Linked DNA regions of Homo sapiens. The protein of the gene in region 1 purifies or fractionates together with the protein of each later gene. This does not show direct contact. Each region holds a gene or a part of one and is shown on either strand. Other genes may lie near its edges.

The links.
Region 2: the proteins of CD82 (region 1) and ITGAL purify together in Homo sapiens (affinity purification with western blotting, with the first as the bait; one study listed by BioGRID). This does not show direct contact.
Region 3: the proteins of CD82 (region 1) and HBEGF purify together in Homo sapiens (affinity purification with western blotting, with the first as the bait; one study listed by BioGRID). This does not show direct contact.

Annotation. Positions count from the first base shown.
Region 1 is NC_000011.10:44,603,595-44,607,242, forward strand, and holds part of CD82 (CD82 antigen), read left to right. Parts: intron 1-823; exon of another isoform or gene 824-864; coding exon of another isoform or gene 865-907; intron 908-913; exon of another isoform or gene 914-1,136; intron 1,137-1,423; exon of another isoform or gene 1,424-1,463; coding exon 1,464-1,588; exon of another isoform or gene 1,589-1,743; intron 1,744-1,760; coding exon 1,761-1,835; intron 1,836-3,648. UniProt on the Homo sapiens protein: Structural component of specialized membrane microdomains known as tetraspanin-enriched microdomains (TERMs), which act as platforms for receptor clustering and signaling.
Region 2 is NC_000016.10:30,486,147-30,489,794, forward strand, and holds part of ITGAL (integrin alpha-L isoform a precursor), read left to right. Parts: intron 1-2,748; exon of another isoform or gene 2,749-2,820; coding exon of another isoform or gene 2,821-2,842; intron 2,843-2,935; coding exon 2,936-3,009; intron 3,010-3,107; coding exon 3,108-3,240; intron 3,241-3,648.
Region 3 is NC_000005.10:140,340,003-140,343,650, reverse strand, and holds part of HBEGF (proheparin-binding EGF-like growth factor precursor), read left to right. Parts: intron 1-838; coding exon 839-1,016; intron 1,017-3,648. UniProt on the Homo sapiens protein: Growth factor that mediates its effects via EGFR, ERBB2 and ERBB4. Required for normal cardiac valve formation and normal heart function. Promotes smooth muscle cell proliferation. May be involved in macrophage-mediated cellular proliferation.

The DNA.
Region 1 (3,648 bases):
CTGATCCACACTACTCTCCAGCCTTCTGGAGACGCCAGCACCCTCGCCCTCCAGGTGCGTCCCATGCCCTGGGGGTACAGTGTACCCATGCTGGTGAGTTAGAGATGACATGAGCTTTACCCTGTGTGATGGGTTGGGTGTCTTAGGAAATGTTGGCCAAGTGCCCCTGCAGGACTCCTGACCTCTACCTCCCGGAATGGGCCTGTCCACAGGTAGCTCTAAAGAGGGTCTTAGCCATCAGGCCCATTCCTGTACCTCCTAAGCATCATTTCCTCCCGGGCTTCTTTCTTGCTCTCACTGGTCCGTTCTCTCACCTTCTTTCCAATCTTCAAATAACCAAGCTCCTCCTTCCTCAGGCCTTTGCACCTGCTGTGTTCCCTGCCTGGAATGCTTTTCTTACAGATCTTTGCTTGGCTGACTTCTTCATTCATGTCTTGGCTCAAATGTCACTGGCTCAGGCTGGCCTTCGTCGACCCATTCTGACCCTCTCCCAGCCCAGCAGTTCTCTGCAGTTAGCCAGCTTTGGTATCTTCATGGCGCCCAACACAACCAGAAAACCTGTATTGTGTACTTTTTGTCTCCACTCCCCACCCCCAAATGTCAGACCTTGTTAGTCACTCTTCTGCATCCCCAGCAACTGGCACAGTGCCTGGCATGAAGTGGGCACCCAGTAAACATTTCTTGGCCGAATGAACATGCAGCACACCTGTAGCAATACATGTGCCCCGTGCATCAGTGGAAAGAGTGTGGCACTGGAGATTTGCATATTTTCAAATTCCAGCTCAGGCCCTTGCCTGTTCGCCTTTCTGAGCCTCATTTTTTTCTTCTGTGAAATGGCCATGCTAGTGCCTGCCAGGCAGGGTGATGTCAGAGTTGGAGACGGCGTGTGGAAAGCCCATGAGGCACAGTGAGTGGGCAAGAAAGGCTGGTGTTTGTTATTATATGGACAAGAAGGAAGGCGGGTTAAAAATCAGCTTGGAATCTTAATGTCAGTGGCCCCTGGAGAACCAGCCAGCCTCTTGTCTGTCAATTCCGCAGATATTCACTGTGCACAGCACCTCACTGCGAGAGGCGCTGTTCGAGCTGGGGGTTCCCCAGGAATAAAGTGAAGCTTCTGCCCTCATGCACCTCAGGTCCTTGGTGGAGGGGGAGAGCAGACAATGAGCAAGAAGAATCAGTGAAATGTAGTCTATTCAATCCTGAGAAGCCTTACGAAGTAAAAAATAAAGCCGGGAAGGGGCTTAGGCTGGATGAGGGTGTGGATTGCAATTTTACTGGGGGAGGGACACAAGTGGGGATGGGGGTGACCTGGTTCCCTGTTGGGCAGTGAGAAGCCAGCAGGGGAATGCAGCTGACCCCAACACCCTGGCTCCAAAGAGGGGATCCGGAAGAAGACCTGGACGGTTAGGCCAGGTGTTTATACCTGCTGTGCCCACTGATTTTGTACTTCTTCTTCCCCCTAGAAACCTCCTCCAGCTCGCTTAGGATGGGGGCCTATGTCTTCATCGGCGTGGGGGCAGTCACTATGCTCATGGGCTTCCTGGGCTGCATCGGCGCCGTCAACGAGGTCCGCTGCCTGCTGGGGCTGGTGAGTACGGATCCCTCCGCAGCTGCCTGCCCATTTCCTCTCATCCAGCCGAGTGCAGCCTGACCGCGGCGCTGGCCGTAACATCGGGTGGAGAGCATCTCTCGGGGCACGCAGGCTGGGTGCACCTGGTCGGGGACCCTCAGCTGACTTTGTGCCTGCTCTGTGTCCCCAGTACTTTGCTTTCCTGCTCCTGATCCTCATTGCCCAGGTGACGGCCGGGGCCCTCTTCTACTTCAACATGGGCAAGGTAAGCCCCTCTCTCCCTCCCTCTTCACTGGGCTGGACCAACCATGGGGGTGATTGACTGAGTGTGGGGGATGGACAAGGAACCCCCCCAGTTGTCACAGACAGATCCAGTAGGTGTCAGGGACGGCCTCCTGGACACTATTCCTTGTGATCAAATGGGGGAGCGTTAGAAGAGAAGGCGGCAGGTGTGGGCAGTCCCCGCTGGGCCTGGATCTTAGCCTGACCCCCCTGCTTTCTAGCTGTGTGGCCTTGGGCAAGCTGCTTGCCTCTATGTGCCTGTTCCACCATCTGTAAAATGGAAACAATAAGAAAACTGAACTCTCAGAGTGGTTGCAAAGATTATTCGAGATTATCTGAGTGAAACACATAGCGCATGGCACCATAAGTACTCAATAAATGTTATTCTTGTTATTATTAAGATACTTTAGCAACTATTAAATCCATGCCACTCACCCACAAATGAGGTTTAGAAGGAGACCGTTAATAAAAACATCAGTCTTGTGTCCGAGGGGAGATGTTCAGCTTTCAGAAACAGAAAATCAGACTTACAGCGGCTTAAAGTTGAAGGACATCTGTGGTTGACTTGACCGGAAGTCTGGTTTGGAAGCTCAGAGGCCCTGGTTCTGGCTGTTGAGCATCCTCGCTGGGATGGCTTTCCTGCATTATGACACTTACCTCGTGGTTCCAAGATGGCTGCCACAGCACCAGGCACGATGTCTGTGCCGCTGTGGCCTGAAGATGGGGAAGTGGGCAGTGCCAGACATGGCCATCCCTTTTATCAGAAAAGGCGCAGTGGCTCATGACTGTAATCCCAATACTTAGGGAGGCAGAGGTGGGAGGATTGCTCTGAGACTAGCCTGGGCAACATGGTGAGACCCCATTTCTACAAACAAATTTTTAAAAATGCTAGCCATGGTGGTGTTCACCTGTGGTCCCAGCTACTCAGGAGGCTGAGGCAGGAGGATCCTTGAGGCCAGGAGGTTGAGGCTACAGGGAGCCATGAAACAGAGCTTGGGGCAACAGAGTGAGACCCTGTCTCAAAAAAAAAAAAAAAAAAAAGTCCTCCAACAGACTTCCCCAGACTGGGTTACAAAGCCACCCCTGGTTGCAAAAGAGGCTGAGAATGTGAGTATCCAACTTTCAGACTCTAAAGACAGAGGCACAAGAGAGAAAGGAGCCAAGAATGGCTGTTGGGTGAGCCAGTTAATTGTGAGTCACAGTTATCACGTAAGAAGCACCTACTGTGTGCACGTGGGATCTTCTAGAAACTTTCCATACAGCGTCTTGTCCTCACAATGGCTCTGCAGGGTTTTATGTTGACAGATGGAGAAGCAGATGCTCTGAGATGAAGAGCAATAACAACATAGATAACAGTGACTCTAACACCCACCATCCCTCCAGTTGAGTCCATGCACAGCATATACCAAGTACAGTGTTGACCACGTTACACTCCTCCTCTCGCAGATCCTCACTAGGCCCTCTCAAGGTCGTGGGAGAATCCCCGTCCTGCAGATGAAGGAGTAAGGACAGCCTAGGCTCCCTGACTCCGAGTCCTGAGTTCACCCGTCCCCAGACCCTGCTGCACATGGCCTGTGGCCTAGCAGACCCTTAGGGTCCCTGCTTCCAGTGCCACCAGTTCTTGTCCACCAGGGAGGGTGGCAGAGCCGGCAGCCAGATAGGCTCCTGCCCTTCACCACTTGAAGGTCAAGTTGCCTGAGATCCCTCTTGGAAGGAAACTGAGAAAACACTATACCAACATCAACATCAACAAATAACATTTAATAGAACTTAGAACTTAATGGAACTTCACAAGA
Region 2 (3,648 bases), on another chromosome or scaffold:
ATGTGATTCCTACAGGAAAGTCTCCTTTGCTAGGACACAGCCTTGGTGTTCGGTTCAGTTAAAGAAGCAATGGGCTGAGCGTGGTGGCTCACGCTTGTCATCCCAACACTCTGGGAGGCTGAGGCAGGCGGATCACTTGAGGTCACCCAGCTACTTGGGAGGCTAAAGTAGGAGAATCGCTTGAACCCAGGAGGCAGAGGTTGCAGTGAGCTGAGATTGTGACACTGTACTCCAGCCTGGGTGACAAGAGCAAAACTGTCTCAAAAAAAAAAAAAAAATCAGCAGCAATGGTCCAGCCTGGGCAGCATAGCAAGAAGCCATGTCTAAATAATTAATAAAAATGAAAAGTGATTTTTTAAAAAAAAGTTTTTAAAAAAAACTCACTCTCAACTGGCTTTTAAGCTGAGATATGAAAGATGAGATTCAAACAGCAATGTGAGAAAGGTGGAATGAGGGCAGAGAGAAGCACAGGTGCAAGCCCAGGGGCGGGGAAAGGGCTCGGCATGCCAGGAAAATGGAAAAAGTTCAGTGTGACCGAAGCGCAGTGAGGAAGGGAGAGAGAAGGTTGGCAGGGAGGTAAGGGTCTTCCAGGCCCTCAGAAAGAGTTTGGATTTCAGTGTGAAGATCGATGAGAAATCATGAAGGAGTTTTTTGTTGTTGTTGTTTTGAGACAGGGACTCACTCTGTTGCCCAGACTGGAGTGCAGTAGTGCGATCACGGCTCACTGCAGCCTCAAACTCCTGGGCTCAAGCAGTCCTCCCACCTTGACCTCCTGAGTAGCTGGGACTACAGATACACACCACCACACCTGGCTAATTTTTAAATTTTTTGTAGAGACAAGAGTTTCTTAGCCAGGCGTGGTGGCGGGCGCCTGTAGTCCCAGCTACTCGGGAGGCTGAGGCAGGAGAATGGCGTGAATCCTGGAGGTGGAGTTCACAGTGAGCCAAGATTGTGCCACCGCCCTCCAGCCTGGGCGACAGAGTGAGACTCCGTCTCAAAAAAAAAAAAAAAAAAAAAAGAGTTTCTACTATATTGCCTAAGCAGGTCTTGAACTCCTGGGCTCAAGCAATCTTCCTGCTTCAGCCTCACATAGTGCTGGGATTACAGGCATGAGCCACTACGCCCGGCCGAGACAGAGTTTCTACTATATTGCCCAGCCTGATCTTTAACTCCTGGGCTCAAGCAAGTCTTCTGCCTCAGCCTCACAAAGTGTTGGGATTACAGGCGTGAGCCACTGTGCCCAGCCCATGAAGAGGTTTTTTGTTTTGTTTTGTTTTGTTTTTTGAGACAGTCTTGCTCTGTCACCAGGCTGGAGTGCAGTGGTGTGATCTTGGCTCACTGCAACCTCAGCCTCCTCGGTTCAAGCGATTCTCCTGCCTCAGCCTCCCAAGTAGCTAGTAGTACAGGCGCCTGCCACCACACCCAGATAAATTTTTTGTATTTTTAGTAGAGACGGGGTTTCACCATATTGGCCAGGCTGGTCTTGAACTCCTAACCTCAGGTAATCTGCCCGCCTTGGCCTCCCAAAGTGCTAGGATTACAGGTGTGAGCCACTGTGCCTGGCTTTTTTTTTTTTCAAGACAGAGTTTCACTGTGTCAGCCAGGCTGGAGAGCAGTGGTGCGATCTTGGCTCACTGCAACCTCCAGTTGTTTTTGAGCCTCCCAGCCTCGAGCAATTCTCCTGCCTCAGCCTCCCAAGTAGCTGGGATTACAGGCATGTCCCACCATGCCTAGCTAATTTTTGTACTTTTAGTAGAGATAGGGTTTCACCATGCTGGTCAGGCTGGTCTCAAACTCCTGACCTCAGGTAATCTGCTTGCCTTGGCCTCCCAAAGTGCTGGGATTACAGGCATGAGCCACCACGCACAGCCAGTGAAGAGTTCTTAAGGAGAAGCTATATAAGCCAGGCACGGTGGTGCATACCAGTAGTCCCAGCTACTTGGGATGCTGAGGCAGGAGGATCTCTTCAGCCTAGGAGTTTGAGACTGTAGTGAGCTATGATCACACCACTGCACTCCAGCCTGGGCAACACAGCAAGACCCTGTCTCAAAAAAAAAAAAAAGAAAAAGGGTGTATTTCAAAGGCAGGAGTATCATGATTTGGTGATGTGTTGGAGATGAGATGGAGTATAGAGAAGACTCCAGGTGGATTTGGTTTCTTAGCATGGTTCATTAGGTGAGTGGGGGTGCCATTCATTGAAGTGAGAAGCCTGAGTCAGAGCAGAAACCAAGAGCTGAGTCTTGGACACATGGAGATGAGTAATTGGATATTCAAATCTGGAGGCTGGGCACAGTGGCTCACACCTGTCATTGTCCCAACACATTGGGAGGCCGAGGCGGGTGGATCACCTGAGTTCGAGACCAGGCTGGCCAACATGGTGAAACCCCATCTCTACTAAAAATACAAAAATTAGCTGGGCATGGTGGTGCACCTATAATCCCAGCTACTCGGGAGGCTGAGGCAGGAGAATCGCTTGAACCCAGGAGGCAGAGGCTGTGGTGAGCTGAGATTGCACTACCGCACTCCAGCCTCGGTGACAGAGAGAGACTCCATCTCAAAAAAAAAAAAAAAAAAAAAAAAATTAGCCAGGTGTGATGGTGTGTGCCTATAGTCCCCACTATCCAGGAGGCTAAGCCCGGAGGGTTGCTTGAGCTTGGGTGGTTGAGGCTGCAGTGAGCTGTGATTGCGCCACTGCACTCCAACCTGGGCAACAGAGCAAGACCTTGTTTCAACAACAAAAAACAAACAAATCTGGGACTCCCAGGGTAAAAGCCAACTCCGCATTAAGCCACTTCCTGGGTCTGCCTGACCCTCACATGCATGCCTTCTACCTTACCCAGAAGTAAATACCTCACTTCTTCCCCGTCCTGCCATGAATTTTTTTCACTGCATTTACTGCTGTTGGGTCTCACCTGTTCTCTGCTTTGTTCCCCAGGCACAAGCAAACAGGACCTGACTTCCTTCAACATGGAGCTGTCCTCCAGCGGCATCAGTGCTGACCTCAGCAGGGTGCGTGCTGGGCTGGAGCAATGGGCTGCAGGGAGTGCAGTTGGCTCTGGGGGGTGGGTCGGTGGGTAGCTGACCCGCTCATCTCCTTCCCTGGGCAGGGCCATGCAGTCGTGGGGGCAGTAGGAGCCAAGGACTGGGCTGGGGGCTTTCTTGACCTGAAGGCAGACCTGCAGGATGACACATTTATTGGGAATGAACCATTGACACCAGAAGTGAGAGCAGGCTATTTGGGTGAGTACTTCTCTTTTCTGCTGGGATCTTCTGGTTGTTGAGGTCAGATGGTCGCTCAGCCTGGCTTCCAAAACAATAATGAAAGCAGTTAAGCAACCAGCATGAACAAAGTCAGAGTTTAAATATGGCTATAACATTCATAATTTATTGTCTGTATTTTCTGATGCTTTGACATCTTGGGGCCGTGCTAATCCTGAAAAGACTACCTCTCCCAGGGTAGGCAAATTCCTAGAGATAGTAAACAACTTGCCTGTGAATATGCCTTGTAGCTGGTCCTAGTGGCTCATGCCTGTAATCCCAGCAGTTTGGGAGGCTGAGGCAGGTGGATCACCTGAAGTCAAGAGTTCAAGACCAGCATGGCCAACATGGTGAAACCCTGTCTCTACTAAAAATACAAAAGTTAGCCAG
Region 3 (3,648 bases), on another chromosome or scaffold:
CAGTCTCTCTGAAGCATGGAAAGAAGGAGGGAGTCATCATTGTTCCAGTTCCTTCTGGACAGTTCCTTACTTTCCATTTTTCTATCCCTTGTACACCCTGTACCCCCCAATCCAGAGAGCTATAAACAGGACATTGGGGGTTAAATATGAATGAATCTTTGAGAAAGTGGGTGAGCTGTAAAGGGTATGCAAGTTAAATATTTTGCTTGAAGTTGAAAAAGCAAGGCCGTGACCAGGGCTGGCCTGCTTGCTGTTCCTGAGCCAGGCTCTGCCCTGGGCTCATAGTACTAAGGGGTGCCCCAGAAGAGACCACCTGAACACATGGACACTGTTCTTATATTAGGAGCCCTCCAACCCCAGAACCTCCAAGTACCTTCTCTAGAAGCAATTTTTGTGTGTGACACTGTCTTTCTGCAAGTGGTTCACTGAGTACAGCATCAGGAAATGAGGCTGATTGAAGGCCAAAATAGAATGAAGTGGGTGTGGGGGAGTAGGAGATGGGGGTGTAAGGTGGACAGTGGGGTGGAGGTGAGGTTGGTAGAATTGCCCAGTTACTCAACAAAAGCATTCTGAGAATGAGGCTCTTACACAGAGACTGTGAAATGCCTTCCTTGGGACCCACCCTAGCTTCTACTTCCTACCGAGGTTCCCTCTTTCTGGTGGTTCTGCCCAATCTTCCTGCTCTTCCTTCTGCCTCTTAGGAGGCACTGAGCTAAGGGGCCTTCCCAGATCTCTGACTTCAGGTGGAATCAAAGCATATATACTCCTTTCAAGCACTATGCTCTTCTGATTTTCTTCCCAAAGAGTCAGACTTTAACAGAGTGCTTTTCTCCTACAGTCACTTTATCCTCCAAGCCACAAGCACTGGCCACACCAAACAAGGAGGAGCACGGGAAAAGAAAGAAGAAAGGCAAGGGGCTAGGGAAGAAGAGGGACCCATGTCTTCGGAAATACAAGGACTTCTGCATCCATGGAGAATGCAAATATGTGAAGGAGCTCCGGGCTCCCTCCTGCATGTAAGTGCCCCTTCCCCAGGGCTGAATCTCATCAGCACACTTTGTCAGCCACGTGGCTGTTCCTCGTTGTCACTGTTCCTTGAATTCATAATTTCACCCAGTTTCTTCTCAACCTCTGGGCGGAAGTTGGGAGGAGGGGAAATATATTTTTAGTCAGCGGAAGCCCCCTCCCCCCTATAGGATGCAATTTCCTGTGGTATGGTTTTGTGACGTGCTTTAATCCTTGGGGACATTTCCTGCTTGCCCAGAAATGAGCATGTGGCTAGGACAGCTGGCACCTGAAGGCAGGCCCTTAATTCTTGCCTGATGCCCTACTCTGGGAGGGAGAAGCCAGTAGGAAACATGGCAGAGTGGGCTTCCAGGGCAGAGTAGAGCTCCTGTGGGAAGGTAGGAAGTGCATTTGGATGCATGATGTATAGGTATGTGTGTATTTGGGTTTATGTGCATGTAAGTGTGCAAATGTGGATTGACTGTGAGGCATGGCAGGACTGTACAGAGAGGGATCATCATGGCGGCAGGTTGAGGCCTCTCTTTCTTCTTCCTTATCCCAGCAAGGACGAGGAGGTGGGAGACATGGAGAGTACTGGCCTTTGGCCACGTTGTGAGAGAACAATTCCTTTGTGCAGGGTTCACAGGAAATGGAACCTGACCCATTAGGCATCAGCCCCCGGTCAGGCAACATCACCCCTTCCCTGGGTAGGTGTGTGGGTGGAGGGGCTGTGGGTTCCTTAGCCTCTCTCCTAAGCCAAACCCAGCAAACGGCTGCCTTGGCAACCCCTCAGGGATGACAGCACTGCCATGCTCTCTGGCAGGCATAATGTTGCCACTGTGCCTGAGGCCAACACCCTGCGTCAGGCTGCAAACATCCATTCCCTTCCCTGTGGGGAGGGAGGCTCTGGGGGCCTTAGTGGGAGACTCTGGACAGGGCCAAGAGACTGTTGTATGCACACTGCCTCCAGCCTGTCAAGAAGGCGGCGTGCCTGGCATCCCTTCTACTGGTGATTGGTGCAGATCCCTTAGCTTTTTAAAGCTTCCTTGTTTTGTCTGATCACACACAGCAGAGCTGCCCTGTATTTGGCAGTTGGCAGACAGACCCATCACTCCCCACCATGTCCACAGTCACTTGTGCATCCTTTCCTATAACATCCTTGTCAGGAGCTTGGTATTAGAGGGAGTTGTTTAAGAGTGGCATAGAAAGCCCCCATATTATCCTTCCCAAGGTCTTGGGACAGGGTGGGAAATGTTCATCTTAAATTTGTAAAATGGCATCATTAGTACAGGGTGAAGAAGGTGACTCAAGTAGTCAAGGTGGATTGAGGTCAGGAATCTGTCTATACCAGATTGGTCCTGGGCATTTTGGTGGATGGATGTGGGGCTTGCACTGTGTGGTTGAGAGGCCTTATAAGGTTGCCCTCCTGGAGAGCTGGACTCGGATGACCACCTAAACCCAGAGAACCTGATATGGGTGCCCAGGCCACCTTCCCAGTGGTCCCTAGGGATAGTGATAACTATAATGATGTCATATCTCCTTTGTCCCAGAGTTTCAGTGTTTATATATAATATGAGTTGAGCCCAAGTATGTTGAGCCCCTATTTGGTGGCAGACACTACTTTAGGAGCTGGAGAGATATAGTTTCCTGGGATTTTTCAAAAGCCCTCTGCTGAGTAGGCAGGACTTGGTACCTCTACTTGAAAGGTGATGAAACTGGAGCCAGAAAATAGGAAGTAATTTGCCTGAGGTCAATAGCTAAATAAGTAGTTGGAAATAAGACAGAGTCTCAGTACCTGACTCCTAGTCCAACATGCTTTTCATGCCCTCAAGCTGTACTGGGTGTTGGCTTTCATCTTTCTTTCCTGTATCTGTCCTTATAGAGTTGGAGCAGCATTTTATAGAGGGCAGAGGGCAGCTGTTGTCCTAGAGGTCTCTTATTCTTTTACTAGTCTAACAGCACAGCAATCTGATTTGAAAACTTTACATTAACTTCTTGGGCAGAATTTTCTTTTTCTTTGTTCTTTTCTTTCTTTCTTTCTTTTTTTTTTTTTTTTTTTTTTTGAGACAGAGTCTCACTCTGTCTCCCATGCTGGGGTGCAGTGGTGTGATCTCAGCTCACTGCAACCTCTGCCTCCTGGGTTCAAGCAATTCTCCTGCCTCAGCCTCCTAAGTGGCTGGGACTACAGGCACCTGCCACCATGCCGAATTAATAATTTTTATATTTTTAGTAGAGACGTAGTTTTGCCGTGTTGGCCAGGCTGGTCTTGAACTCTTGACCTCAGGTGATCCGCCTGCCTCAGCCTCCCAAAGTGCTGGGATTACAGGCATGAGCCACCATATCTAGCCTTTTTTTTTTTTGAGATGGAATCTCGCTCTGTCACCCAGGCTGGAGTGCAGTGACACAATCTCGGCTCTCTGCAGCCTCCGCCTCCCAGATTAAAGTGATTTTCCTGCTTCAGCCTCCTGAGCAGCTGGTATTACAGGCACATGCCCCCACATCTGGCTAATTTTTAAATTTTTGTGGAGATGGGGTTTCACCATGTTGGCCAGGCTGGTCTTGAACTCCTAACCTCAAGTAATCAGCCTGCCTTGGACTCCCAAAGTGCTGGGATTACAGGCGTGGGCCACCACTTCCTGGGCA